4 linked regions of the Homo sapiens genome follow. The protein of the gene in region 1 purifies or fractionates together with the protein of each later gene. This does not show direct contact. Each region holds a gene or a part of one and is shown in the gene's direction. Other genes may lie near its edges.

Region 1 (7,912 bases):
AATGACTTAAAAATTGGGACTTATACTTAAAAAGGAAAGCGGAGTCTAAAAGTTTGGAAAATGTGCAGCCTGGCCATGTGGTAGAGAAGAAAAGCATTTTCAGGAGAGGAATTCAACCAGGCTGTACAGCAACTTGCTAGAGAGGTTAGCATGGCTAAAAGAGAGCCAAGTGCTAATAGCCAACACAATGAGAAAAAGGCTTGAAGGCATTTCAGAAGTCTTTCAGACTGCCTGTCCGACCACAGGCCCAGAGGCCTAGAAGGAAAGAATAGAAAGTAGGCTGTCTTCCTTATTTTTCTCTTTTAATTGGGCACTCTTTGTTTTGTTGTTGTTGTTTTGTTTTTAGTACTCAACTTTCTGAGTGACTTTTAAACTGAAATCAGAAGGAAAAGAAGGTAGCTAGGTAACAAGTTGCAGTCAGATGAAGAGAGTATTTCAGACAGCAGAAAGAGTTTGCAGGAAGGGAAAGAACCTAAAGTAGGAAAGATCCTGAGAAGTTGGAGGAACTAAAAGAAAATCAGTAAGGCAGAATTTGACTTCCCATTCCCAGCAGATTAAAGTTCACATGCTTATCAAGAACCTTCACATTCTGGCCTCAACCTATCTTTCCTACTCCCCTTTATATTACTTTTCTTCATTTGCAACCCACTCTTGACTACCCCAGATTACTTCCATTCCTGCCTACCACAGATCACATATTTCATACCTCTATGCCATTATTCATGCTGTTTCTTCTGCCTAAAATGTTCCTTTTTTGAAATCTTTCAGATCCCATGAGGCATAATTTATCTCTCTGTTCTTTGTAACTCCAGAGTACTTTGTTTATAACTCTTCCACTACATTTCTAAGACTGATTTATAATTATGTACACACTTGTTTTCTCCACAAGATTATGACTATAAGCCATGTCAGTTATTTTTATATCTCCTTCCCTGATCTTCCAAACATAAAATGCAGTGCTTAGTAAATGTGTGCTGATTTAATATGTTAATATGAGTTTTTGTATTAGGTTACAGCTATATCATTTTTAACTACATCATACTAGATTATTAGTATTAAATTAAATTACAAAGAATGTGTTCCATAACAATAAATAGCTTGTAATCATAACCAATTTTGTGTAGAAAACCAATAAGGATTATAGTTGAGAAGTAAAAGTATTCCTTCAAGATCACTGAGAGTAAAACAGACTAAGGACAGTTCCCTTAAAAATTACTAAGTCATGCCCTATTGTTAAGTTTTCTTGTCACAGTTAAGAATAATCTGAAGATAAAGAAAAACATGTTTACCACTTTTAAAACAGAAGAAGCATAATTACTTAATAAGGTCTTCTGAGTGATAATTATTCCAACATTAGTCCAGCCAGATATGTTCATAGAAATGTGCTAACCTCTTTTTCCCCGAGTACCATTCAATGAAGAACCAATGTAAAACCAGAGGAAGCATTGCCATAAATCCAAGATAGAGCCAATCATAAAGTTCAGGAGATTCTGTGCAAGGCTGACAATATTTCTGTGCATTCGTTCTCTGTCCTCTTGGGCATACCTATAATATATAAAACCAATATTTTGTGTACAGATATTATTTTACAACATTAACACCCCCCCAAATCATTCTATAAGACATCCCATTTCAGTTTAAATATTTAAGTTTACATGTGCAGCTTTTAGAAATAAAAAAGAGGGCATAAGTAAAATAAAAAGAAATCTATATTGTATGTGCTATATTTGTACAATGCTCTTAGAAGATTCCTTTTACTAAGTTACTAAAATAGTTGACTAACATTCAATGAAAAACCTAGTTATTAACATTATATAAGAATAACTGCAGATAAATGTTCTGGATTCATGATGTTCAACTTACTGTACAAGACACGGTACCAAATCATAAATTAGAAATTATTATAAAATTATTAAATGTTTTAAAAAATAATATAGACATCAAAATGCCAACATGAACAATGACTATATTAATGCCTCCATATTCTTTTATATTTCCTTATTTTATTTTTTTTTTGAGACAGAGTCTCCCTCTGTTGCCCACGCTGGAATGCAGTGGTGCAATCTTGGCTCACTGCAACCTCCACCTCCTAGGTTCAAGCAATTCTCCTGTCTCAGCCTCCCGAGTAGCTGGGACTACAGGCGCACACAACTATGCCCAGCTAATTTTTTTCTATTTTTAGCAGAGATGGGGTTTCACCATATTGGTCAGGCTGGTCTCGAACTCCTGACCTCAAGTGATCTACCCACCTAGGCTTCCCAAAGTGCTGGGATTACAGGCATGAGCCACTGCGCCTGGTCCTCCATATTCTTTTATAAATTAATGAGTATAATAACAAAAAATGTTGTATGTGAAAATATTTCAAAAGCAAATAGATTTTACAAAATGAAATAAGATACAAACATAAGACTTACCCCACATTCTCCATATATTTCAGTTGAGCCATTTTTAAATAATAGGGTCTTCCCACAATAAAGTCCAAGGCATGCTGGTTGAATATCGACAGCTTTTTAAAAACAAATGCCAGTATAGTAACATCTTTTGTGATTATAAAAAATAATTGCAATAATAGCTGAAGCATTTGGCAAAAATAACAGTTTCAAATTTTTGAATAATATGTATTAGACAAAAGTCTTGAAGCATTTTTAAATTTACATTTCTCCTTTTACACTGTGACACTGCAGACAGTTATCCTGGAACCTTGCTGTTAATACCGTGCCTTATGATTAAGGTCCTCAACCAGCAGAGCAGGATCTATCTCCAGGACTCAAAGCCTAACCCGGTATGATTAGAGGATACTTCTGAGTTTAACTGATTATAAAGTTCAAATATACATATATTTTTAAATTAGAGCACCAGTAGAGGGTCACCACCTTGTATTTTGCCCAGTCAGGACATTAAGCACCCACATGTAGACACACAATTATCATTATCACCTATGTTCATAACAGAACACATTTTCACATGGGAAAAGCAGAGAGAACATAATTTCATAACAGAGGTATGCAAATTACCTTTATAAAAAGTTTCCTACATTGTCCTAGCTTTTATCATTTTTGTGGAGGATAAGTGAAAATTTCATCAAGGCTGTCACTGGGCCAATATTTTAGAAACCACTGCATTAAAATTAAGCCCCTGATCTAAAGGCTTAGGGGAAAAGCAGCTATTCCTTACTTAAAAAAACCCCAACAACTAAGAACCTAATACGTTGTCTTTGACCTTATTCACAAGAAATTATGGAAGTTTTCTTCATCAGTGACATCTGATTCCCTTCATTCATTCATTGATTAAAACAAACAAACAGGCTCGGTGAGGTGGCTCACGCCTGTAATCCCAGCACTTTGGGAGGTCGAGGTGGGCAGATCATGAGGTCAGGAGTTCCAGACCAGCCTGGCCAAAATGGTGAAACCCCGTCTCTACTAAAAATACAAAAATTAGCCTGACGTGGTGGCGCGCGCCTGTAGTCCCAGCTACTGGGGAGGCTGAGGCAGGAGAATCGCTTGAACCCAGGAGGCAGAGGTTGCAGTGAGCCGAGATCGCGCCACTGCACTCCAGCCTGGGCTACAGAAGGAGACTCCGTCTCAAAACAAACTGCGGTCTACATGTGAATTAATTTGAAAAATTATGCATCTTTTGACTATTCTTGAACAATCATTTCCCAAATTATTCACGAATTCACAATCTAGACTGCCTGGTCTACAGTGCCTTCTCTCCTTTCACATTCAAGCAGACTTTTTACTTCCTTCTCCTTATGCTGCTGAGAGAAAAAGAGAAACAGCATTGAATAATATTCCTCCAGTTTAATATTTTCGCTTTTAACAAATTTCGGACTTAGCTTTTTAAACCCACTGGCCTCTTTAATGGGCGCTTATTTTTTTTGTAACCAATTGTAATCACAATGTTCTAAATTAATACATGAAAATGAATATTTCAGGTTTTTCAAGAATGCAGAAGGTAAGGAATTGGAAACTTCTGTATGGGCTTTACATCTAGTAGATGCTTAATAAATACACGTGAATATCAATAATCTAAAGTTTCTCAAAATCCAAGGCCTGAAAACCAGTATGATAAACTGAACTGAAATAAACAGCCTATCACTTACTAAGCAAAACCCAGGCTCCAAGCGACTGTTGAATTTCTCCTTTCATTTCCTTTAGCGAACGATGGCTAAAGTTTTAAGATTCCATTTTTTTGCAGCGGTCCTGCCCTTTGTGACGGGCGCTATAAATCTACGTTTGAGGTTGAAGCAGTAGACAAATTATGCAGCAACTTGCTTCTGCTTTACTGTTTTTTCTGCACTATCACCCGCGTTTTCAATTCCGAAGTCAACCCTCAAGCAAGTGTTCCCTCGACATTAAACTAAGGGACTGAAGAGACATTTCGGACCAAACAACAAAGACCTGGCATTTCGCCGCAGACAGCGCGCCTCCCCTAGTAGCCCGTTGCGGACAGACCACCCCAACCCCGCAGGAGTGCGGAGCCCGGCCCGAGGGCGGGCGGGGTCAAGGGGCGAGCCTGCGCCGCCAACCGAAGGCCGCCTACAAAGAGCCGAGCCCGAGGCCAGCCGTGTAGGAAAGTAGTCGGGACTACCAGAAACGCTTCCCGGGATCTTGGCGACCACTCACCCATGGGCCGCCTGAAGGTTTTTTTCGAGAAGCACTAGATCAGCGGATCTGGCAGCTGCACCGAACATCCGGGCCACAGCGAGCTCGGCGGCTCCGCCTCCCGGTAACCCGGGCGACAGCTCCGAAGTTCCTCCCTCGCTTCCGGGTTTAGGCTCCGAGACCCCGCCCCCCGGACGTGGCTGGTTAGCGTCCCGCCCTCCTCCCGCGGAGTCAGTGGGTGAGGGTCGGGCTTGAAGCCATAGCTGCGGGACCGTACTCGTCTCCCCCGACGCAGACCATGGAGAGCGCGCTGGCGGTGCCCCGGCTGCCCCCGCATGATCCAGGGACGCCGGTGCTGTCGGTGGTGGACATGCACACGGGCGGCGAGCCCTTGCGTATCGTGCTGGCGGGGTGTCCGGAGGTGTCTGGGCCCACCCTGCTGGCCAAGCGGCGCTACATGCGCCAGCACCTTGACCACGTGCGGCGACGGCTCATGTTCGAGCCCCGAGGGCACCGGGACATGTACGGGGCGGTCCTAGTCCCGAGCGAGCTGCCGGACGCGCATCTGGGCGTCCTGTTCCTGCACAACGAGGGCTACAGCTCCATGTGCGGCCACGCAGTGCTGGCGCTGGGCCGCTTCGCTTTGGACTTCGGGCTTGTGCCGGCGCCCCCTGCGGGCACCCGCGAGGCCCGCGTCAATATCCACTGCCCCTGCGGGCTGGTGACCGCCTTCGTGGCATGCGAGGACGGCCGCAGCCACGGACCGGTGCGCTTCCACAGCGTCCCGGCCTTCGTGCTGGCCACAGGTAATGGGCGGGACCTTTCCAGCCCAGGGCAGAGCTGCAACCGGGACGCGACTAACTACATTAACGGTTTTTCTGGGCTGGAACTCTGGCAACTAACCTACTCCGCGAAACCTTGCAATTAATAGAAAGGTAAATCACTGCCAACGTGTGTCAGCAGCCTTGCGTATTTGGTGCGTGTAATTTCGATTTTCCCTGACTCCCATCCGCCTGTGGTTTTGGGAGACCCTTGAGGAGCGAGGAATTGCGTGTTACCCTGACTCAGCGCCTCCCTCTGCACTGGTGAGGCATTCCTAGAGATTTCACCGGTGGATAAAGCAAGGTACGGTGGGGTCAAGGAAAGAGCGAAGAACAGCCAATGTACCAGGGTTCCAGGCTGGCTGAGAATATGCTTGGTAGACACAGAATCACACTTAATAAGTTACTAAACCTGGTCTCCTTTCCTCACCTCCCCCACTTCTTTGAAGAATTAAATGAGAATGAATGAACAAAGCAGTTTATAAATCATTAAGATACGAATGTTGCTTTTCTTTAAGAACAGGAACACACATTGCCTGGTTTCAAATCCTGATAACCCCCTAAAGCTGTGCAACCTTAGGCAAATTACTTAATCTCTCTGTGCCTGTGTTTCTTCTTTTCCCTCATAGAGTTTTTTTGTTAGGATTAAATGAGAGTATGCAAGATACTGTATTCCTGGAGATAGATTGCAAGGTTTATATGATCGCTAAAGTTCCCTAGGCCTATTGAGCCATTAAAAGGTTTTGCTGGATTCTCTAGTACAGATCCTTGTACAGCTTATCATGTAAAGCAGGGCATCTCTATAACCATAACCCTTACAGGAGGGATGACCTGGCAAGCTGGCATCTGGTTTCTCATCAGACTACTACCTCCCAGGAGCTGAATTCTATCAGTAAGAATGCTTTAGTCATTGTGACTGGAAGTGAGCCAGGAGCCAGTTTACCAGGAATAGAGTTATCCTTTTCTTAAAAATCTTCAAGCCATGCAAATCATCTGTTAGAAAGTTGGACCTTGATTCCCCCTGAAGAACTAGGTTTCAGATTAGCCTGATTATGAATGATAACTGATAGAACAGGCACTTTTAGAGCAACCTTAGGCAGCTGAAATCCACGAGTTAACGAAGAATGCCTCTGGAGAAATTGATGCCATTTTCCCAGAGAATGGTGTCACTTCCAGACTGGGAGGCCACTTGAGGGAGACAGAATTTATGTTTACGATTCCATTTTTAAAACCTCAACAGTTTAACTAGCGTGGCTACCAGAATTCCCCCTAGGCAACTCCAGCAGCAGAGTAGAAACACTCTAGACTTCTGTAGGAAATGGCAGCTGGCAGCAGGAACACAAACTACATCTCATTTCTGGGTCAGTTAGGGCAGGGTCAGTCAACCACTTGACCTCAGTAGTTCCTCTCAGTAGTTCCTGAGAGCATCACTGTATGACAGTACAATGATTAGTGGGCATTAATGGTCACTGAGTTAAGAAAATGAAATGCTATATTCTCTACTTTGAAAAATGCATACAAGGCAGACATAGTGTTCAAGGTCACTGCCCCACCTCTCCCCATCTCAGTGACCTTGTGCTAGAGAGTCCATGCCTCAGTATCACAGTCTGCAAAATGAGGATGACAACAGTACCCACCTCAGAGGGTTGCTGAGTTCATCTCCACCCCACCAGGCTAAAATGCAAACTCTTTCTTGTTCACAGTATTCTAAGTGCCTAGAAGAGTAGTCAGTCAATGAATGTTTGTTGAATGAGTAACTAAATAAATGAAATTTGGAGAAGAATATGCTGATTGACAAATGTAAACATCTGGTCCTCTTGAGAAACCTATTGCCACTGGAAATTAAAGTTTTGGCTTTCGAGTCCCTAATCTGTGCCAGGAACTCCCCATACGTGGAATTTTCAAAACAACTCTTTTAGGAGAAATAGCAGTTACAGTTTGCACAAGACACCAAAGCCACACTAATGGCAGAACTAGGGTTGGAACCCTGGCCTATCATATTGCTTCCCTCTCATCCTTAAAATTTTTTGTAGTTTAAGGAGATATGTTTCAATTTTCTAGAATAGTGCTTAGTGTATTTTAAAGCATTTTAAAATCTGTCTTGTCCAACTAAACTCCAAGAAGGGGAAAAGCCTATGTTTTATTCCTTGTACTTCTCGTATCTTCTACAGTAATCGGCACATAGTAGGTGCTCACTAAATCTTGAGCAAAGTAAATCAAATTGAAATTTCAGTGATATGCTTGTATAGAAGAAAAGAAAAACCCTTAGATTTTGGATTGTGTTCTGGATAGAGGTTGTATATTTTAGTAGAAAGGGTTTGGGCTTTGGAGTCACCTGGTCCTGGGTTTGACCCCAAGCTCTGCCACTTATTTAGTGGGTAAACCAGGGAATAATGTAAAGATAGTAAGTAAAACAGTACCTACCTCTCAGGGCTGTAGTAATTAAGGCACTAATGTAATGAATTAAGGGGCTAGTGTATGTAAAGA
Region 2 (7,963 bases), on another chromosome or scaffold:
CAATGGAGGTGGGGAGAATGAGGTGCAGGTGCCAAGGTCCCAAGGTGAGAAGGACAGGGGATGTGGACAGCTCCATGTAGGGGGATCTCCTGGGCGCAAGAGGTCTTGTGTGTTTAAGTTTTGGGGTTTGACTGTTAATCCAAGCGGAGGTACAGAAAGGTTTTAAGGAGTGGCATCTGTGCTTTGGAAGGGCAGTTTGGCAACAGGTTGGAAGGCAGACTGCAAGAGGCAATGCATGTCAGGAAAACCAGTTAGAAGAGTATTGCACTGAAGAGAGAATGGTGTCCTGAACTAAGGCAGAGGGAAATAAAGCATGAATGTGGAAATGACTTGGGAACAGAAGAGAAAGGAATTTGGTGATAAATGGAGGCAGCACAGCACAGGTGAGCTGGAGTCAGACTCTACTGTGGATCTTAGGCAAACTACACTTGTGCCTCAGCTTCCTCATTTATAAACCAGGAATGACAGTCATTAGCACCTGTCTTATAGTGTTGGTGGAAGATTGAAGGAGTTAATAGTATGTGAAGGCTTGGGGTACAGCCTAGCACATTATCTTACCCAGGAAATATTAACTATGATTATGAAGCTCAGAAAAGAAGAAAAAAGGAATGACTAAGTTCACTCCCAGGATTCTGGTTTGGGCAACTATGTATGCAGTTCTCAAAGTGTGTTCTGTGGACATCTAGAGGTCTCAATGACGCTTCAAAGTAGAATGTGAAGTCAAAACTATCTTACAGTAAAATGTATTTGTTTAACAATAAAATTGTTTTTAAAACTGCATCTCACCTGATTCTAATTTAAAAAATTGGCCAGGTGCAGTGGCTCATGCCTGTAATCCCAGCACTTTGGGAGGCCGAGGCGGGCGGTTGATTTAAGGTCAGGAGTTCAAGACCAGCCTGACCAACATGGTGAAACCTTGTCTCTACTAAAATACAAAGATTTTTTTTCCTTTATGTATGTTTTAGATAAGCATGAAGGATAAGCAAGTTTCATTAAATGGGAAGAAAATGTTTTATTCCTTTCTTGTTACATGAGAAATACTATTATTAAGCACCATTCATTTTTGCTTAGCTTCAAATGAGTCTCATGACAATAAAAACGTATGAAAAATACCTTGGTGAAAGTTTTGAACAATCTGACCAACAAGATAAAGTATTATTGAATTATAATTCAAATTATAAAACGAATATCCATGAGTGCATACTGATAGGAATAAATGACTAAGTTAATGAATGGGGAAAAAGAGACAAATCTCTAATGCAGAATAAATTAAAATAATACAGATACTTCACCCTAAAAAAGATCACTCCTCACTCCTTAGGTGTGGGCTGCACACAGTGACTTCCTTCCAAAGAGCACAGTATGGAAAGGGAGGAAAAAGAGTAATTTTACAATGGAGAAACCTGACAAACATTACCTCAGCCAAGCGGTCAAGATCAACATCAACAGTAATAAATCATGATGTCGGTATGAACTCTTAGTATGATGTGATGAAAATGGTACTTTATCTCTATGATCTTCCTCCCCAAACCCATAACCCCAGTCAACTCGTCTACCGGAATTCATCTGATGTTTTTGTCGCATGGTTAGCCTACAAAATACTTGACCAGCACTCCTCAAAACTGTTAAGGTCATCAAAACAAAAGTCTGAGAAACTGCCATGGCCAAGAGGAACCTAAGACATGACATCTAAATGTGATGGGTATCCTGGACGAGATCCTAGAGCAATAAAAAGATATTAGGTAAAAACTAAAGACATAGGAATAAAGTATGGACTTTAGTTAATAATAACACATCGACATTGATTCATTAAATAGCAAACACATCATAGGGTAATAAATATGCCATACTATAAGATGTCAATAACAGGGGAAACTGTGCATGTGTGGTGGGTGGGAGAGGGGAGTGAGTATATGGAAGTCCTGTTCCACCTGCTCAATTTTTCTTTAAAACTGTTCTAAAAAATAAAGTCTATTAATGTTTTTAAAAGCCTGGTATTTATTGGGAATAATTCCACCATCCGTCTATCATCCATCATGGTAACCTAGAGACCTAAAATTCTATAATGGGATATCCTACATACAATTCAAATCAGCATTTACCCAAGTCCTACTATATATGCCTTTGAACTGCTGAATACTGGCTATAAAAAGATGAACAAAACAATTTCCGAGGTCGAGTTGGAAATAAAAGACATTTAAATAAGTAATTTTTGTCCTGTAAGATGAGCATAACTGTAGCACAGGGAAAAGGATCTGTGAAGCTTCGACAGAGGAGATATACAAAAAAAAAAAAAAAAGGCACAGAATAAAGAAATGGGTGGGCTAAGCCTGAATTTTTTTTTTTAAGCCTGTGCCTCCAAGCATCTTCTGGGGTTTTTTCCTCCTGAAAATGAATGTCGGAGCAATCAAAATAGTTACCCCAGAGAAGCATGGTAGAGGCCAACAGTTTATTTACCATGGTGTTTTAACTTTACATGTACAATAGGGGAAATATACTTTAGGTGAATTTTAAAACGGATAAGTAGGAAAAGAGCAAGCTAAAAACAAACATACCCGCCCCCTACCCTTTATTTTCTCTTTTTTTAACAGACCCACTTGTCTATTGACCAGGTATCTGTAATATGGGAGAATTCACTCTATTCCTTTCCACACAAAGACGTCTTGGAATTTTCTAATTTCTCCTTTACTATGATTGCATTCTGTTCACATAATAGTCAAGGGTATGGAAAGAACATTTATAAGAGCAGTGTCTTTTAAAATCAATTTACTAGTTAACTCAGTACTGAGCATACATTCATCATTCAAAGATGATTCCCACAAACGTTACTCGACATACTGGTTTTCAGTATATTTTATCAAATTCAACCACGAGGGCCACCAGTTCTGCTTACGATCAGGTGACCCTTGTTGGGAGACCCCTGACCCCTTTTCTTGACATCATGCTGTTAGACCTTTAAGCTAGCTATACCGCTAACTGCGTTTTGAGTGACTGCAAAAGGGAGGCAACTTCTGCCCCGCCGAGAGCCATCCTAAGCGTTAGAAATGGCAGAAAGTTTCTTGGGACTGACAAGGCATGGGCTTCTCCTGATGCTGTCACCTTGGGCAAAGCTCCTACAGGTAAATTAGGGAGAGAATTATTTTGCCGGCGTCACGAGACGAAGAATCGAAAAAGTGTGAAAAAGGACTTCGCCCGCCCCAAAGCGCCCATCCGGCGGCGGCTATTTCCCGGGCCTCAAGCGCGCTCGAGCGGCGCAGCACAAAAGGCCGGGCGGGAGCGGGGGTCGCCGGGCGCCGCCTCCCGGTGCATCTCGGGAAGGGCTCCCGCCCGCGAGGCTCCGTCTCCCCGGCGCGGCCCGCTCGCCGTCCGGCTCGCTCAGGGCCTGGGCAGACGCGGCCCGCCCGAGCTACCGCGGGTTCCGAGACGCCTTCGCACTGCTCCTCCACCCGGGGGATCTTTGTTCCCGGAGCTGTTCCCCGCCTCGCTGCTCCCGCCGCAAAACCTGTTTGCGGAATACCCGCCGCAAGTCTGACTTGACGATGTGCAGTTTTGGGGTGCGCCAGTTGTGGGGGCATTCATAGAGGCAGCGAAGGGACCCCTAAGTTTAAACACCCGGGGAAGGATAAAGGAAGAGCGTCGGGCCCCCCTCCTCCCAACAGCGCTCGGGCGCGAACGGCGCCCTCCCGCGCTGCCGGCTCGCGCGGGCTCCGCAGGGCGCGCTGGCGGCGGCGGCGGGGCGGGGCGCGGCAGGCGGGCCCGGGGCCTGCACGTGGTGGCGATCTTTCTTCCCACCCGGCCAGGTCCCCGGGGACCACCGCGCTCAGGGGGAGGAGGAATGCCGTTCCCGGGCCCCGCTCCGGAGAGGGGTTTTACCCTCTGGGATCCCGGAATTGGAGGTGGAGAAGAGAGGAAGCAAGGGAGGGCGCGGCGTGGCGCGAGCGTTTCCTGCGCGGGGACTGCGGGGTGGCAGCTGGAGGCCACTGCAGGGGCAGAGCGGCGGGTTGGGGGAGCGACCGACCCATGGGGAGGGAAACCCGGTAGGGGGAGCAGGGAGCCGGAAAGCAGGGTTGATACATACCTGGGTGGGCGGGCTGGAAATGCCTTCCCTGGGCGCGCCGCGCAAGGCCGGCGGAGCGGGCTCCGGGTGGTCGCGGACCGGGACTGGGGAGAGCAGAGCCGCACTTGGCCAGGCGCGTGGCTGAGTGGTGTTTACATTCTGCAGCCACTCCACGTTGTGCTGCCGCCCGTGCCTCCCATTGGCCAGCTCTTCAGCCAACGCTTTGCTCCTCCCCGAGGGGCGGGCCCTCGGGTCCCCGCGTCGCTCAGGAAAGACCTGGGTTCCCTGAGGCCTTGGCGGGACAGCTAGGGCGCGCCCCTGGACGGTCACTTCCCAGCCACCCTATGGTCGCCCGAGTCGTGTCCCCCTGTTATGCGCCCGGGCTGAGCCGCAGGCTGACACCCCCGAAATCCAGGAGTTGCAGTGGGAGGAAGCAAAAGCAAACTGGCGGGAGATGCGCGAGCCAGGCGGCGGGGAGAACAGCCGCGGAGAAGGAGCCCCTGAGAGTTTCCCTACCGCCGCCGGCCGCGCCGTGGAGCGCGGTGGACGCGGGCAGAAGGCCCGGTAGAGTGGACCCCACGGCCGCTCCGGGTGGCGGGCGCGCACTGAGAGCAGGGCGCGGCGCGCGGGCACGCGGGCGGACGGGCGGGAGAGGGGAGCGCGCTGTCCGGAGGTGTCAGTCTGAGGCGCATGCGTGCGGGGCGGGACCGGCCCGGCCTATATATTGGGTTGGCGCCGGCGCCAGCTGAGCCGAGCGGTAGCTGGTCTGGCGGTGAGGAGTTGCTGCGCGTAGGGGGGATGTGGGAGGAAAGAAAGCCCAGTTGGGCCGATCACTTACCACAGGCGGGAGCCTCAGGGAGGAAAATCGGGAGGGCTGAGAACTAGACGACTGGGGGTCATGGGTTCCCGCGTTCCGTCCCTGTCAGGAACCTTGGCAGGGGACCGGGAAGCGGCTGGGCATGGAGAGCCGCCCCTCATTCTAGGGGCTTCTCTATCCCACCCTCATTTGGGGAGCTATCCCGTGGGAGAGAGGATGGGAGGCCGGGTCCCCTCCATGGGGAGAAAAGTTCCCAGCCAGCCCAGTCTCCCCTTTCTTTAGCTCCTTTTCCTGCCCTCCCCCACGCCCTCCGCTTCCCATCTGGAGTTGGGGTCCCGGCGCCCCTCCGAGCGGCGGTAGGGCGGCAGGGCCGGGAAGGAGGGAAAGGAGACTGGAGGCCGTGACACCAGTCTTGGTTCCTCCGCCCCCTGCTTCCCCGCCACCGCCGCTCTCCAAATTGGCGCGGAACCGGCTTCTCCACAGCATTTCGCCTCCACAACCCCCTCTCCCCGCTGGTCCAGGAGGGAGGCGGGACGTGGGGGCGCTGCCCAAGCCCCACTCCCGGTGTACGGGGGAGAGGGTGGAGGACCCAGAAAAACCCGTTTGAGGAAGATGTGCCTCCCTGCGCGTTCAAGGTGTCAGGAGTGCTTGGTAAATTTTTGGACACTCGCGTTCCAGCTGTACATTCAGTTGAGGAAATGCAGGCTTGTATCCAAAATGAATTACCATGAGCTAGCTAACATAGCACAGAAGATGGCAGGGTCACAGGGCCCAGGCCCCCTTCGGAGGGACTGAGCTTTCACCTGCGAATCAGCGTCTTACTGGCACTTGGAGAATGTGAATGACAATGTACTTGACTGCGGCTTTTCCTCTCCCCCCTTCAGAGGTTTTATACACCTGAAAGAAGAGAATGTCAAGACGAAGGTAACATTATCTGTCTTAGAGACATGTTTCAAATTAGTTGCTGCCTTTAACTTACTAATTACACTTCCTTTTTAAAAATTCACTACAGTAGCCGTTTACAAGCTAAGCAGCAGCCCCAGCCCAGCCAGACGGAATCCCCCCAAGAAGCCCAGATAATCCAGGCCAAGAAGAGGAAAACTACCCAGGTGATTTAAGGAGAAAGAGGGAGGAACGAAATTCCATGCTGGGACTTTAGTTTACCAATGGTCTTTTCTATTTTCCAGGATGTCAAAAAAAGAAGAGAGGAGGTCACCAAGAAACATCAGTATGAAATTAGGGTAATGCAGAACTGGGCTGGGTGGGTTTGGGGGAAAAATGGAGGATAGATGAATAAGAATAGAATTATGTGTTTATTGCTTTGCGATAGATTCCTCTGACACTTTTACTTTTAATGCCCCTAGAGGTCAGCAGGAAGGCGCCTATCTTTGGGTGGTTTCTATGTGCCCGAATCCTACTACAGCTGCAGAATAAGTGCCTTCAAGCAGCTGGTTCCTTTTTGTAAATCCCTCCCTCTTGGAACTGCCTGGTGCACCAGGGCCCGCCTAATCTGTCCAATATACTGCTCTTTGTTCCCTCGCAGACTCTAGTAGACGGTCCTAATAGCTGCTTCTTGGGCATAAATAGGATGTGAGATCACTGACAGCCTGGCACGCAGCCCTTTGGTACCTCTTCTTCCTATGTGTTTTACAGAAAGCAGCACTTTGGAGATAGTGATTGCGTTTGAAACCAGCATTATTGGGAAAAGAATCGTTTAAGTAATCGATTCCATTTTTAAGGTTTTGCTTTCAAATATTCAAAAGTATCAGAGCACACTTTTTTTAAAAAGAGCTTATTTGAAAAAAAAAAAAAAAGGTCCCTGCTACTATTGCTAGATACAGAGAACGATTCTGTGATCTTGAAAGTGATTAGTATTTTAGACTGCAGATGCATTTTGTTATTACTGTCCTTCTTCGACACCTGGTGTCTTCTATTACCAGAATTGCATTTTGTTGTCTAAAACATCCTATTACTCTTTATAAAAATCAATATGAGCTATATGGCTTGTTTATAAAATGTGAATGTCAAATTAGCTATATTGCCATCTATGTTAGCTAAAATTATGATTCTTTAGACATATTAGCTTTCATTTATGAAAGATCCATTACAAAAACTAAGGTTTTCCTTGCACAAATTGATATTTTTCTTTTTTTTTATGACAGAATTGTTGGCCACCTGTATTATCTGGGGGGATCAGTCCTTGCATTATCATTGAAACACCTCACAAAGAAATAGGAACAAGTGATTTCTCCAGATTTACAAATTACAGATTTAAAAATCTTTTTATTAATCCTTCACCTTTGCCTGATTTAAGGTAAGAAAAATTTCAGTAATTTTATTTCAAAGATATAAAGTTGTGCTGATTTAATACATGGCACTATTTTGTCTTTTGCTTTCATAAAGTAGAAAAACGTGTAAAAATTGTTTACTAATATTTAATCATATGTCATTTTATCTGAGAGTAGTGCTGGTTGCAAATGATATGGGTATTTAAAACACTGATTCTATAAAATTATTTTCATTTGCTTGCTGAGTACTATAAAGACTTAACAGGACTGAATTAGTTTTTTGTTAAGATAGAAACATTTTTACATGTACAGCTTTTTCCTTTAAAATTTTTATTCGTGTTTCTTGCAGCTTCAACTCAAAGGAAGCTTTTCCAATTGATGTATCAACCCTATTTATTTCTTACCAAACTTAATAAGGTCTATACTTAATTCTTTTTTCTAGTCCATGAGTGTAACTAAGAGGTACAGCTTATACAAAACATGTACTGTATTAATTTATGATTGGCCTTAATAAGCAATTTAATGGAATCAGACACTTAAACTCACCAATCCCCCTTTCCCTGCATTCTGTCCCACCTTACCCACCCCATAGGTGATCCTGCTGTAGATGATCTATTTAGAGGTGATTGAGACTTCTCTTGACTGTGATCACATGCCTTATGTGTTTAACTTTTTTGTATTGCTCTTGAGAAAACATTTTTTTTCACTTTTAATTGCATTTATTTTAGTGCTGAATTTACTCCTGTGCCATAAGTTTTTGTTTCTTCAGTTTCTTCTGGGATATCTTTTTCTTCTGGGCAA
Region 3 (7,172 bases), on another chromosome or scaffold:
CTGACTGAATAAATGTACACACAGTAACTTCACAGACCCCTAAGTATAAATTTGAAAGCCTTCCAAAAGGCTTTCATATTCCTATTTCCCATCTAAATGACAAACACCAGGACTTAACTCATTTATATATTTATGTATAATGTTGGTGTTCACATCAAATCTTCCCTTCCTCTGTGTCTAGCTGCTATGAAACTTTGATAATATTCCTCCCTATAACTTCCTATATTTTCTCTCTCCTAACAGCAGGAGAAAAGCTGAGTGGGGTACAGCTGAGTCCCGGTAACCAACAGGAGATGAAGAATAATGTGGAGAAAGTGCTACAGTTTGTGGCCTCTAAAAAGATTCGTATGCACCAGACTTCGGCTAAAGGTCAGTGCCTCATCACATCCTTGGTGCATGAGTATACTTTAACCAGTGAGTGCTAGCCTCAGGAAAATCCTTGGCTGTAACCTGGGGGAAGATAGAAAGTCTCCATTCATTTTATTTTATTTTTTATTTTTTATTTCATGATTATTATTTTTTGCGACGGAGTTTCACTCTTCTTGCCCAGGCTGGAGTGCAATGGCACAATCTTGGTTCACTGCAACCTTTGCCTCCCTGGTTCAAGTGATTCTCCTGCCTCAGCCTCCCAAGTAGCTGGGATTACAGGCATGTGCCACCATGCCTGGCTAATTTTGTATTTTTAGTAGATATGGGGTCTCACTGTGTTGGTCAAGCTGGTCTCGAAATCCTGACCTCAAGTGATCTACCCGCCTCGCCTTGGCCTCCCAAAGTGCTGGGATTACAGGCGTGAGCCATTGTGCCCGGGCATTCATTTTAATTGAATACAGATTTGCTTGAGTGTATGTAGGAAAATTAGTGGTTAGAGAAGAAATTATGGTTGGGCATGGTGGCTCATACCTGTAATCCCAGCACTGGGAGGCCAAGGCGGGAGGATCACTTGAGCCCAGGAGTTTGAGACTATCCTGGGCAACATAGTTAGGCTCTGTCTCCATTTTTTAAAAAAGAGAGAAGAAATTACAATATTGGGATATTAATTTTAGAATTTCTCATTTAAGTTATCAAAAATGAAGAGTTTATGTTTTTTAAGTTCCTTGGGTTTCATGACAAAATATTATTTAAGATACTCATAACCTACATTTTTTCCATCTAGTTTTTTAGAAGGGAAATATTTTATAGCCCTTTTTTGGATATCATAGAACATTCTAGGCAGGATGAAAGCAGCTCTGTGACCTCTGCATCTGCCCTCTTCTGTAGTGGCTTGGCCCAGATGGGTTTGCTGGGCTATTTTGAGCCCAGGCTTCAAGGGAGGAACAGTGTAGGTGTTCTTAGAGAGCATAGGCTCCCTAGTTCTCTTGCTGTTTCTCGAGAACTGACTATAGACCTGGTTTTGTTTCAGCGTCAGTTCCTGGGTCTGATTGCCTTTGGGTCTCATGACAATAGGGGCAGAACGGCTCATGTTGGATTATTATATTAGTGTTCTCTGTGTTTAGATCATTTAGATGAGGCCAATACTGATCATTGAGAGCACCTTGTGGAAGGTATCAAAGAATCCTTCACCACTCCTTCTCAACATAGTACTGGCAGTCCTAGCCAGAGCAATCAGGCAAGAGAAAGAAATAAAAGGCATCCAAATAGGAGAAGAAAAAGTTAAACTATCTCTCTTCACTGATGATATGATTCTATACCTAGAAAACCCCAAAAGCCTCTGTCAAAAGGCTCCTAGAACTAATAAATGACTTGAGTAAAGTTTCAGGATATAAAATCAGTGTGCAAAAATCAGTAGCATTTGTTTTACTTTTTTGAGATAGAGTTTTGCTTTGTCACCCAGACTGGAGTTCAGTGTCGTGATCTCACCTCACTGCAACGTCCGCCTCCTAGGTTCAGCTGATTCTCCTGCCTCAGCCTCCTGAGTAGCTGGAACTACAGGCATGCGCCACCATGCCTGGCTTATTTTTGTATTTTTGTAGAGACGGGATTTCATCATGTTGGCCAGCGTGGTCTCGAACTCCTGACCTCAAGTGATCCACCTGCCTCAGCCTCCCAAAGTGCTGGGATTATAGGCATGAGCCACTGCACCTGGCCAAATCAGTTGCATTTCTATACACCAATAACATTCTAGCTGAGAGACACATTATGAACACAATCCCACAAACAATCCCACTTACAATGACCACACACAAAAAAGAAATATCTAGGAATACATCTAACCAAAGAGGTAAAAGAAATTCAAAATACAAAAATTAGCTGGGTGTGGTGGTGCATGCCTGTAGTCCCAGCTACTCAGGAGGCTGAGACAGGAGAATAGCTTGAAAGCAGGAGGCCGAGGTTCCAGTGAGCCAAGATTGCGCCACTACACTCCAGCCTGGGCAACAGAGCGAAACTCTATCTCAAAAAAAAAAAAAAAAGAACAAAGCTACAAAGCTGGGGTGTCACATTACCTGACTTCAAACTATACTACAAGACTACAGTAACCAAAACAACATGGTACTGGTATAAAAACAGACACATAGACCAATGGAACAGACTAGAGAACCCAGAAATAAAGTTCCACACCTACAACCATGTGATCTTTGACAAACTCAACAAAAATAAGCAATGAGGAAAAGAATCCCTATTCAATAAATGGTGCTGGGATAACTGGCCAGCCATATGCAGAAGAATGAAACTAGATCCCTGTCTATCACCTTTTGCAAAAATTAACTCAAGATGGAATAAAGACTTAAATATAAGACCTTGAACTATAAAAATCCTAGAAGAAAACCTAGGAAATAACCCTACTTGATATTGGCATTGGCAAAGAATTTATTACTAAATCCTCAAAGCAATTGCAACATAAACAAAAATTGATAATTGGAATCTAATTAAACTAAAGAGCCTCTGCATAGCAAGAGAAACTATCAGGGGAGTAAGCAGATAGCCTATAGAATGGGAGGAAATATTCACAAACTATGAATCTGACAAAGGTCTAATATCTAGAATCTATAGGGAACTTAAATAACAAGCAAAAACAAATAACCCTATTGAAAAGTGGGCAAAGGACATGTACAGATACTTCTCAAAAGTGGCCAACAAACATATGAAGAAAAGCTCATCAACACTAATCAGATAAATGCAAATCAAAACCACAATGAGATACTATCTCACACCAGTCAGGATGGCTTTTGTTAAAAAGTCAAAAAATAACAGATGTTGGCAAGGCTGTGGAGAAAAGGGGACACATATATTGTTGGTGGGAATGTAACTTTGTCCAGCCACTGTGGAAAGTAGTTTGGAGATTTCTCTAAGAACTACAGCAATCCCATTACTGGGTATATACCCAAAGGAAAATAAATCATTCTACCAAAAGGACACATGCACCCGTAGGTTCATTGCAGCGCCATTCACAATAGCAAAAACATGGAATCAACCTAGGTGCCCATCAACAGTGCAGTGAATAAATAAAATGTGGTGTGTATATCTATATCTATATCTATATCTATATCTATATCTATATACACCATAGGATACTATGCAGCTATAAAAAAAAAATTCATGTCCTTTGCTGCAACATGGATGCAGCTGGAGACCATTATCCTAAGCAAACTAATGCAGAACCAGCAAATCAAACACCATTATGTTCTTACTTATAATTGGGAACTAAACACTGGGTGCACATTGGGACATAAAGATGGGAACAATAGAAACTGGGGACTACTAGAGGAGGGAGGGAAGGAGGGAGGAAGGGCTGCAAACTACCTGTTGGGTACTGTGCTCACTATCCGGATGATGAGTTCAATCGTACCCTAGACCTCAGCATCACACAATATACCTTTGTAACAAACCTGCATGTGTACCACCTGCTTCTAAAACAAAAGGTGAAAAAGAAAAAAAACAAACACAAATAATCCTTTTCCAAGACTTGTATATTTAAAGGCTACAAAGCTAAAAAATAAAATAAAAATTTACCCATTTCGTTACATTGACTTTCACCAGACTTACCACACTGTTTTCTGCCTACATTCCTCTTTTATTTCTAGGGCAAAATTTAGAGTTCCACGATACCTCTGATCTGGTTCCCATGTGGAGTGGGCTTGGGGATCTGGCCCATTAAAGTCAGCTATTTTGAGGGAACACTGCCATTTAGGACATCATTGTCATTTACCTGGAGAAGTGTAACAGTCTGAGTTAGTCCTGCGGCATTGATTTTTGTCCCCTTCTCATCTGCTCTCCACACTGCAGTCAGAATGATCTTTCTAAGAGTACATATACTCATGCCACTCCTCCGTATCTGAGGACCCTTAGGATAAAATCCAGAGTCCTTCCTGTGGCCTCCCATGCCCTGTGTGATCCACCCTCTGATGCACCCCTCTGCTGCCTCACCTTTCCCTGTCTCCCCCTGCATTCTGGGCTCTGCCTATGCTGAACTTCTTTCACTTCCTCCACCACAGTGCTGTGTCACAGAAATAGAATGCAACTCACATAGGTAACTTAACCACATAGGTTTCTAATAGCAGGCCGGGTGCAGTGGCTCACACCTGTAATCCCAGCACTTTGGGAGGCTAGGCCTCCCTGATCACACTCCTGGTCACTTGAGGTCAGGAGTTCAAGACCAGCGTGGCCAACATGGTGAAACCCCATCTCTACTAAAAATACAAACATTAGCTGGGCGTGGTGGTGGGCACCTGTAATCCCAGCTACTCAGGAGGCTGAGGCAGGAGAATCGCTTGAACCCAGGAGGCAGAGGTTGCAGTGAGCCAAGATCGTGCCATTGCATTCCAGCCTGGGGGAAAAAAAAAAAGAGTTTCTAATAGCCACATCATAAAAAAAGAAACAGGTGAGCCGGGCGCAGTGGCTCACGCCTGTAATCCCAGCACTTTGGGAGGCTGAGGCAGGTGGATCACCTGAGGTCATGAGTTCAAGACCAGCCTGGCCAACATGGTGAAACCCCATCTCTACTAAAAATACAAAAAATTAGCTGGGCATGGTGGCGGGCACCTGTAATCTCAGCTACTCAGGAGGCTGAGGTAGGAGAATTGCTTGAACCTGGGAGGTAGAGGTTGCAGTGAGCCAAGATCACGCCATTACACTCCAGCCTAGACAACAAGAGTGAAACTCCATCTCAAAAAAAAAAAAAGGTGAGATTAATTTTAATAATATTTCATTTAACTCAATATATCCAAAATACCATTTCATGCAATCAATATAAAAAGTTATCGAGATATTTTGCATTTTGGGGGCATGTGTGTATGCTAAGTACATACTACACTTAGAGCACATTTCATTTCAGACTAGTGACTTTTTAAGTGCTTGATAGCTACAGGTGGCTAATGGTTCCCATATTAGATGGCATAGCTCTAATATATCATGCTCTCTCCCACTTCAAGACCTTCACACCTGCTGTTCCCTCTTCCTGGAATACTCTTTGTCTTTCTCTTGTCTAACTAATGTGCTACTCTTTTGTCAATCAAGTCTCAGTTTAGAACCCACTTCCTCTAGGAATCCTTCTCTGAGCCATCTAGATAAGATGTCTCTACTCTGACCTCCCAAAGAATCCTGTACTTCTCTTATCAAAACACATGATCTTACTTTATTGTCATTGCTGTTATATATTCGGTCTCCCTTGTTGCCCAGAGCTTTGTGAGGACTGAGACCCTGACTGCCTTGCTTACCTGTATCACTAGCAATATGTAATAAATGCAGAAGTCCTCAGCTTTTGCCTCCCTCTTAGGACCTCTTGGTCTGTTTTATTCTTGGTCCGTTTTATCCTTCAGATATTGTGGATGGAAACCTGAAGTCTATCATGAGGCTGGTCCTTGCCTTGGCAGCTCATTTCAAACCTGGCTCCAGCAGGACGGTGAACCAAGGACGGGACTCCAGAGCCCCTCTGCAAAGTCACCGACCACACTGTGCCACTGCTGTTGCCCAGGGAGCAGCTGCTGCTCTGGCCGATGTGTGTCATGACATGTCCCGATCAGGACGGGATGTCTTTCGATATAGACAGAGGTAAGGGTAGAAATCTGGGGGTGGGAACTGATCCCTCTCTCTGATACTTCTTCTGTTAGATGATACAGTGCAGTAGATAGAAACGTCACCCAAACAGCCCCAGATTGCAGAAAAGAACATGGAGTGGGGAGGTAGGGGAGGGCACTCTCAAAAGAGAAAAGCCTTTTCTTCTGAGATGTTTATTTTTATTTTGCATTTAGCAAAAGTAAAGGAATCTTATGTGTAAGTTTTTGCTCTGGTGCCCAAAATTTAAATATACACTTTTGGCACAGTGTGTTTTCTTCACTGGGAGGTCCGTGGGAGCAGTGTTCCAGTTCATCTAGAGGAAGCTCCACTCTGGAATGTACCCAAAGGTCAGGTTGTCTTGGGAGTCATGGCAGGAAATGCTTTGTGGGTTGTGTATCTGCTAAGAGAGAGCAGGACCCTGAGGTGTTGCACAGGTTGGTGAATTACTTGTTTTTTGTCTGCCTTCCCTGCTAGGTACCAAGTGTCTTTGAGGCAGGGGTTTTGTCTTACTCATGTGTGTATACTGCTCGCAGAGTGGCAGTCTCTCTGTACTTGTTGAGTTGATCTGATCTGAAGGACTGACACCTTCCCTTTGCTGGGGTCCTTTGACTTTAGGAACAGCAGCATGGATGAGGAAATTGAGAATCCATACTGGAGTGTGCGGGCCCTAGTGCAGCAGTACGAAGGGCAACAAAGGTCCCCGTCTGAATCCAGCTGCTCCAGGTAACTGTGGCCTCTGAAACCTGAATTCTGGAGGATTCTCGGAGTTCTCGGCTTCAAGTAACAATACAACAAGCAAAAAGGCACCTAAGCCCTTTTTCTCCCCTCAGTTTATGTTTGGCTTTAAAGGGATACCCCTTAGCAGTGCTTTGTGGGTTTGTGCTAGTAGGAGGGTAGGAAGGTAGGGTGGGGTGCTGGTTTATTTCCCACAAATGGAATCTGTGCAGTCCCAGTGCCAGTGCTTAACTGTGACCACATGGGGGCATGGCTGGAACCTGTCAGGGCCCAGTCCAGTGGTTCTGACATTTGCATATGAGGTGCCAGTGTTTATGATAGCCAGTTCCATTGTGCTGTCCTTGAGCCTAAGTGTAACTCTTAAGGCCGGAAAAGTCTGTGTAAAGCTCATAGAAGAGAAGAAATTGAGCAGAGTTGTCTTAGAGCATTAGAATGTTTCCAACTTT
Region 4 (7,172 bases), on another chromosome or scaffold:
TAAGAACAGTATAACTCCAGTTTTGGTAAAATGTGGCTCTCTTATATTGACATGTCCTCATGAATTTAGAAAAAAGTTGGGAAGGCTACATTGCAAACTTTTACATCAGTTAGCTCCAAGTTGGAATTGGGTGGGGCCCAGGAGATTTCAATTTTCTATGAAATTATTTTTTAAAAATTTACAATTGGGAGCAATTTTTTCATTTTGTTCAAAAACCAAACTTTTTTTTTTTTTTTTTTTTTTTTTTTGAGATGGAGTTTCACTCTTGTTACCCAGGCTGGAGGGCAGTGGCGTGGCCTGGGCTTACTGTAACCTCTGCCTCCCAGGTTCAAGTGATTCTCCTGCCTCAGCCTCCCGAGTAGCTGGGATTACAGGTGCCTGCCACCATGCCCAGCTAGTTTTTGTATTTTTAGTAGAGATGGGGTTTCACCATGTTGGCCAGGCTGGTCTTGAACTCCTGACCTCATGTGATCCACCTGCCTTGGCCTCCCAAAATGCTGAGATTACAGGTGTGAACCACCGCACTTGGTCTTTAAAAAACAAACTAAATAATGTTTCTCTCCTGTTTTTCTTACTAATTATATAGTTCTATTTTTGACATTTAAATCAGATCATGGAATTTATTTTAAAGAGTGAGGCAGCCTCTTGCCCACTCTTTGCTCCCCACCCTTCACCAACTGGTCTCATATGATTTTGTTGATTATTTTATTTTATTTTATTTGAGATGGAGTCTTGCTCTGTTGCCCAGGCTGGAATGCAGTGGTGCAATCTCAGCTCACCGCAACCTCCGCCTCCCGGGTTCACGCCATTCTCCTGCCTCCTCCAGAGTAGCTGGGACTACAGGCATCCGCCACCACACCCGGCTAATATTTTTATATATATATATATATTTTTAGTAGAGACAGGGTTTCACCGTGTTAGCCAGGATGGTCTTAATCTCCTGACCTCATGATCTGCCTGCTTCAGCCTCCCAAAGTGCTGGGATTACAGGCGTGAGCCACCACGCCTGGCCGATTTTATTTTATTTTTTTGAAGTTTCAACTCCATCAGTTCTGAATTCCTAGGTATACTCACATCCAAATGAAATTATTAGCGATTAAAGAGAATGTGTAGTACTAGAGATACGATGTGTGAAATGGCTTTTTGTCTAATTTAAAATTTTTCATGCTTTAGGAGGTCTGGTCTTGTTGGATTGAACTGCTTCACTATTTGGATCTTGAAACTACCTGGTTAAACACTTTGGAAGAGCGGATGAAGAGCACAGAGGTCCTGCCTGAGAAGACGGATGCTGTCAACGAAGCCCTGGAGGTTGGAACCCGTGATCTCCACGGCATTTCTCTTTGCTGTGATGAGGCCACACGTGTATTACAATGAGGAATGTAATGCTTTACGCAGGCAAATGCATTTGCTTCCTCAGTGGTTTTCAATGTCACTTGCATTTTCTTCCATAGCCTGAAGTGTTTATACAATCATGTGTATTTAGATTATTGGTGACCCATTATATCAGCCTCAAGACGTGGTTAGCTGTTTGACATCTTACATTTTAGACATGTTGAAGCACTCTAGTGGTTTTCCAGTTTATTTTAGTAGGCCCTGGACAAAGCTCTGCCATATGTTATTAGGACAACTGCTCTCTTGTTTCATCAACAAGTTATTTTTACTCACTAAACACAGCACTGACAGTTTATAGGGGATTCCTGTCTCTTACCTTCAGATGCTAGAAGTTAAGACAGTGGTTGAGCCATGGGATCTTGTCGTAGGAGCTTGTCTTCAAGCCTGGATTTGAACTCCTTGAGGCCAAGAAATGTACCCGATGCTTTGTTATTCCTCAGTTCCCAGCACAGTGTGTAGCACATGTTAACTTAATAACCGTTTCTTAAATGAAATACAGTGCAAAGAGGGTAGGTTTGCTTAACAAAAAAGAAAAGGGAAGGGGGTAGATAGGCTTTTAAAAATGTCATGGTACCATGTGGGAACTGAGTGGACAACTGGATTAAAGGTCAGAAATGAGTAAAATGTGGCACTTACATTCCAGGAGACGGATGCTCTGCTAGAGAAAAGATGTCACTTCTCAAATATAGCAGAGTGAGAGACAGAGTGAATGAAAAATATGAAAAGCTTAATTTTTTTCCTAATGTAAGAGTGAATACGTATATATTCTTGAAATATGGAAAATAAAGAAAAGTATAAAGCAAACTCTAAGATAAACATTTTAAAACAGTTTGTAGATTTCTTCCTAATTATTATCTTTTATGTATGCATACTAGAAGGTAGTATATTGGATCAAAGGCTTTGGAGTCTTTTATTTACTTATTTATCTTTTTATTTGAGATGGAATCTTGCTATGTTGCCCAGGCTGGAGTGCAATTGCATGATTTTGGCTCACTGCAACCTCCACCTCCTGAGTTCAAGCAATTCTCATGCCTCAGCCTCCTGAGTAGCTGGGATCACAGGCGTGTGCCACTACCCCAGCTAATTTTGTATTTTTAGTAGAGATGGGGTTTTACCATGTCGGCCAGGCTGGGCTCGAACTCCTGACATCAGGTGATCCACCCGCTTCGGCCTCCCAATGTGCTAGGATTAGAGGTGTGAGCCATCGCACTTGGCCAGGCTTTGGAGTCTTAAAGCTTTAGAGCCATGTTGGAATCTTAGCTCTTCTTTTGACTGTGTGTATGTAGGCAAGTAATTTAACCTTTCTGAGCTTCAATTTTCCAATCTGTAAACTGGGAATGCTATTTAGCCCATATGGTTAATTAGATTTATGTATATAAAAAGTGTGTATATAAAACAATGCCTCTTATTCTGCATATATTGTAGGAAAATGACTACTTATTTTTAGTAATATAATTAATAAAAGTTGAGATCATTTTGCTTGTATAGTACTGTTCTCTGCCTTTGAACTTTGTGTCATGAGCATTTCCCCATATAATTAATAATTATTTTTAACTTTTTATTATTCATTTATTTATTGTTTAGAGACATAGTCTCGCTCTGTTGCCCAGGCTGGAGTCCAGTGGTATGACAGCTCACTGCAGCCTTGAACTCTTGGGCTCAAGTGATCCTCCTGCCTCACCCTCCCATAATTAATAATAGTTGAAATTATTTTTGTGAAATTATATCATATATCACTTGTGCTAATTTCTCAATTTTATGCATTTTTTAATCCCATGATGGATATTTTTGTGAATTAGTAATTTACTTAACTTTTGGTCCTGTTACTTAGGTAGATTTTTAGAAAATATAATTACTTGTTTAACAAATAGACATTTTGGGGATCCTTGATACCTTTTGCCTTAGTAAATGCATTATTATTTTTTTTTCCCATCTCCATTCCAGTCTCTGGAATCTGTTCTGCGCCACCCGGCAGATAATCGCACCCAGATTCGAGAGCTTGGCCAGACTCTGATTGATGGGGGGATCCTGGATGATATAATCAGTGAGAAACTGGAGGCTTTCAACAGCCGATATGAAGATCTAAGTCACCTGGTAAGAGTTGGGACATACATGGGTGTTGATTAGGTATTGATGAAGTGGAGCTGGCCCTAAGCTCCATATCATAGAGCTTTAATGTTGGAAAAATCTTTAATGTTGGTTAAAGTTGGTAACCAATGCTAACAGGGGCATTGAGGGTATTGAAATATTCAGAAAGGAAGAATAGATCTAACACTCTAAGACAGAACTGGATGATTAAAAAAATTATTTTTGAGATTACTTCTACTTACAAACATTTAATTTTCATTAAGGATCATATGATAGCTGTATATAAGAACAACAACTCATACTATCCTAGTAAATATTAGGGCCATGATATTTCACATAAGCTGCTGTGAAAGCCATAGTCTCTTAGTTCATATCCAGGTTGTAACATACATATTCGTATCACAAATTAGAGAAAGAACATTTCTTTTATAGGAAGGTTGGGTATGAATATTAGGTGCTTCCAAACACATATTAAATAATAACTGTTGATGTTCAGCCCATGAATAACATCAAGCTTAACCCAAAAGTGCTGTAAATAGTAGTTTGATATGTATGTACACCTATAGAATTTGTTTTAGGCTTTGGAAAAAAAGAGACTCTGATGTTTGTGTATTGATAGACATTTTTCTTATGTTTTATATTCTTAATTGGCAGACATTGCTGATTCCTAAAAATGCTTTAAAATTATAATAAATAACACATTTTTATCTTCTGTTTAATGCATCTTATGGGAAACCTTTACATTTTTGTATTTCAACATTATATATAGAAAGAAGTAATAATTAGTAATTCAGCTGCATGGTACATAAGATCCTAGTGGGACATTTTCACTGTTATCATTAGTAATTATTATTTATTTATAAAGAAAGCTAAAGTCTTGGATGAAAGCTTTTATGGTCTTTTCTTAGTGGCCAGAATATATATATTCTGCTATTTATATTTGTGTTGGGCAACTAATGATTCAATTTCTCCTTTGTGCAGGCAGAGAGCAAGCAGATTTCTTTGGAAAAGCAACTCCAGGTGCTGCGGGAAACTGACCAGATGCTTCAAGTCTTGCAAGAGAGCTTGGGGGAGCTGGACAAACAGCTCACCACATACCTGACTGACAGGATAGATGCTTTCCAAGTTCCACAGGAAGCTCAGGTATTGCCGTGCATTTGAGGGCTTTTGAGCTGTAAAGAGAGCTTTTGTAATTGCCTCCTCAACTATAAGAGAACCCCTCCTGCTCTCCAAAACCGAGAGTCAATGGGAAAGATTGACCTTACTTACAGGGCAGCATTTGGGTTTTGGAGTTCTCTTGCTTTCTATGTGAGACTCTGGCAAAAGTCTTATATAGTTTATTTTATTTTATTTTATTTTATTTTATTTATTTATTTGAGACAGAATCCCACTATGTCACCCAGGCTGGAGTGCAGTGGCACGATCTTGGCTCACTGCAACCTCCGCCTCCTGGGTTCAAGTGACTCTCCTGCCTCAGCCTCCCGAATAACTGGGACTACAAGCACGCGCCACCACGCCCGGCTAATTTTTTGTAGTTTTAGTAGAGACGGGGTTTCGCCATGTTGGCCAGGCTGGTCTTGAACTCCTGACTTCAAGTGATCTGCCTGCCTCGGCCTCCCAATAATTTTTGTATTTTTAGTAGAGACGGGGTTTTGCCATATTGTCCAGGCTAGTCTCAAACTCCTGACTTCAGGTGATCCACCTTCCTCGGCCTCCCAAAATGCTGGGATTACAGGCGTGAGCCACTGTGCCTGGCTGAAAAGTCCTGTATATTTTAAATTGTAGTTTTCTTAGCTGTGAAGTTGGGACAATTCCTTCCTTATAAATAAGTTGTGAACATTAGAAACGACAAATGCAAAGCCCTTAGCAGGTGCGTCATGTACAATAGTCATACCATGCAGTGGGCCATATTATTATTATTATACAAAAACGTATTATTATTATTTTTTAGACGGATTCTCACTCTGTTGCCCAGGCTAGAGTGCAGTGGCGCGATCTCGGCTCACTGCAAACTCTGCCCCACAGGTTCAAGCAATTCTCCTGCCTCAGCCTCCCGAGTAGCTGGGATTATAGGCGCCCGCCACCGTGCCCAGCTAATTTTTGTATTTTTAGTAGAGATGGGGTTTCACCATCTTGGCCAGGCTGGTCTTGAACTCCTGATGTCGTGATCCACCCGCCTCGGCCTCCCAAAGTGTTGGGATTACAGGCATAAGCCACCGCACCTGGCCTACAAAAACTTATTAAAGCTTCTGTGGAGGTCAACATTATGTAAAATACGATATCATGTATTACACAACGATATAGAACTTTTGTATTGTCTCTTTTTATACTTAAGTAAAAAAAAAAGGACATCCTCTCCCCTTTCCAATCTCTTTTTAGAAAATCCAAGCAGAGATCTCAGCCCATGAGCTAACCCTAGAGGAGTTGAGAAGAAATATGCGTTCTCAGCCCCTGACCTCCCCAGAGAGTAGGACTGCCAGAGGAGGAAGTCAGATGGATGTGCTACAGGTAAAGAAGGCCAGGAGCTTCCTTTTACTTTTCAACTTGTTGGGAATTTTCTTCAAAAAAGAGAAAGAATTGATTACTTGGGCACCGTTTGTATTCTTTGTGATGTAAACCATGGGATGGGAGTGATGATGTGTTGAAGGTTGCATCCTAGGGCAGCAGAAACAAATTGTTGCATGTGTGGAAAAATATGAAATCTGATTTTGATAGCTGAGATGAGAAACAAGAGAGTGAGCCAGATTTAGAAGTTAGCTTTATATACACTTTTTCTTTAATGCAGAGCCTCTGTCAGTATCGTGTGGCTGATGCTGTGGGCAGGCCGAGCATGAATTGGATGCAGCATCATTTAGTTCTTTCATGGTTGATATGACATTGACTTTCACTCTGAACTTGTGATGAAGGGCATTTTGAGTTCTAGGTTCCTGAACTATCTTTTTGAACATGAAGTTTTAATTCCAGTGAGGTCAGCTTTATCTAAATTTCTTATCCAAATCTATTACTTCTGAGATTGAGACACTGAGTGTTGTAATTTTTGACACTGGGCTATGCAGTTCACTTAGGTGATCGGGTACCCTCACTGAGATTCATTAGGAGTTTTTTATTTTGGGTCATATTTCTGAATTTTTTTCTTTTGGTACTTTATGGTACAAATTTTTAGTAGTATCTGTTATGCTCATGATGAGAGAGATAATCATCCTGATGGGAATTGCATATTTTCATTTCTGCAAACAGAGGAAACTCCGAGAGGTGTCCACAAAGTTCCAGCTTTTCCAGAAGCCAGCTAACTTCGAGCAGCGCATGCTGGACTGCAAGCGTGTGCTGGATGGCGTGAAAGCAGAACTTCACGTTCTGGATGTGAAGGACGTAGACCCTGACGTCATACAGACGCACCTGGACAAGTGTATGGTGAGGCTTTTGGGTGATTGGCACATCCAGTGGCTTTTTCAGCAGCTGTTATGGCTTGGTCTAGCAAGTACATGCCTAGTGTGTCCAGTGATCACTAGTCTACAGTGTGCTAAACATAAGGATTGATGATGGAAAACGTGTTAAAAAATAAGAAGTGTGGTCTTTCCCTCCAAAGAAATTAGAAGAGATAAGAGAGATAGCTAAGGAAACTAGAATAGACATGTATATAACATGATGACAAAAACCAAAACAAAAGAAATACAGCTTAATCACCATGTGAA

What was found.
Region 2: the proteins of L3HYPDH (region 1) and CCNE2 purify together in Homo sapiens (affinity purification with mass spectrometry; 3 studies listed by BioGRID and IntAct, with this or other methods). This does not show direct contact.
Region 3: the proteins of L3HYPDH (region 1) and DIXDC1 purify together in Homo sapiens (affinity purification with mass spectrometry; 3 studies listed by BioGRID and IntAct, with this or other methods). This does not show direct contact.
Region 4: the proteins of L3HYPDH (region 1) and UTRN purify together in Homo sapiens (affinity purification with mass spectrometry; 4 studies listed by BioGRID and IntAct, with this or other methods). This does not show direct contact.

Annotation. Positions count from the first base shown.
Region 1 is NC_000014.9:59,481,307-59,489,218, reverse strand, and holds the start of L3HYPDH (trans-3-hydroxy-L-proline dehydratase), read left to right. Parts: upstream 1-4,810; 5' UTR 4,811-4,902; coding exon 4,903-5,410; exon of another isoform or gene 5,411-5,539; intron 5,540-5,643; exon of another isoform or gene 5,644-5,729; intron 5,730-7,912. Other genes in the region: JKAMP (JNK1/MAPK8-associated membrane protein), read right to left, coding at 1,391-1,545, 2,415-2,506, 4,103-4,148. UniProt on the Homo sapiens protein: Catalyzes the dehydration of trans-3-hydroxy-L-proline to Delta(1)-pyrroline-2-carboxylate (Pyr2C). May be required to degrade trans-3-hydroxy-L-proline from the diet and originating from the degradation of proteins such as collagen-IV that contain it.
Region 2 is NC_000008.11:94,892,043-94,900,005, reverse strand, and holds the start of CCNE2 (G1/S-specific cyclin-E2), read left to right. Parts: upstream 1-4,804; 5' UTR 4,805-4,829; intron 4,830-5,758; 5' UTR 5,759-5,784; coding exon 5,785-5,798; intron 5,799-5,886; coding exon 5,887-5,983; intron 5,984-6,061; coding exon 6,062-6,115; intron 6,116-7,036; coding exon 7,037-7,188; intron 7,189-7,963. UniProt on the Homo sapiens protein: Essential for the control of the cell cycle at the late G1 and early S phase.
Region 3 is NC_000011.10:111,968,270-111,975,441, forward strand, and holds part of DIXDC1 (dixin), read left to right. Parts: intron 1-243; coding exon 244-369; intron 370-5,753; coding exon 5,754-5,985; intron 5,986-6,606; coding exon 6,607-6,714; coding exon of another isoform or gene 6,715-6,718; exon of another isoform or gene 6,719-7,172. UniProt on the Homo sapiens protein: Positive effector of the Wnt signaling pathway; activates WNT3A signaling via DVL2. Regulates JNK activation by AXIN1 and DVL2.
Region 4 is NC_000006.12:144,484,212-144,491,383, forward strand, and holds part of UTRN (utrophin), read left to right. Parts: intron 1-1,173; coding exon 1,174-1,308; intron 1,309-3,336; coding exon 3,337-3,486; intron 3,487-4,461; coding exon 4,462-4,623; intron 4,624-5,859; coding exon 5,860-5,988; intron 5,989-6,717; coding exon 6,718-6,891; intron 6,892-7,172.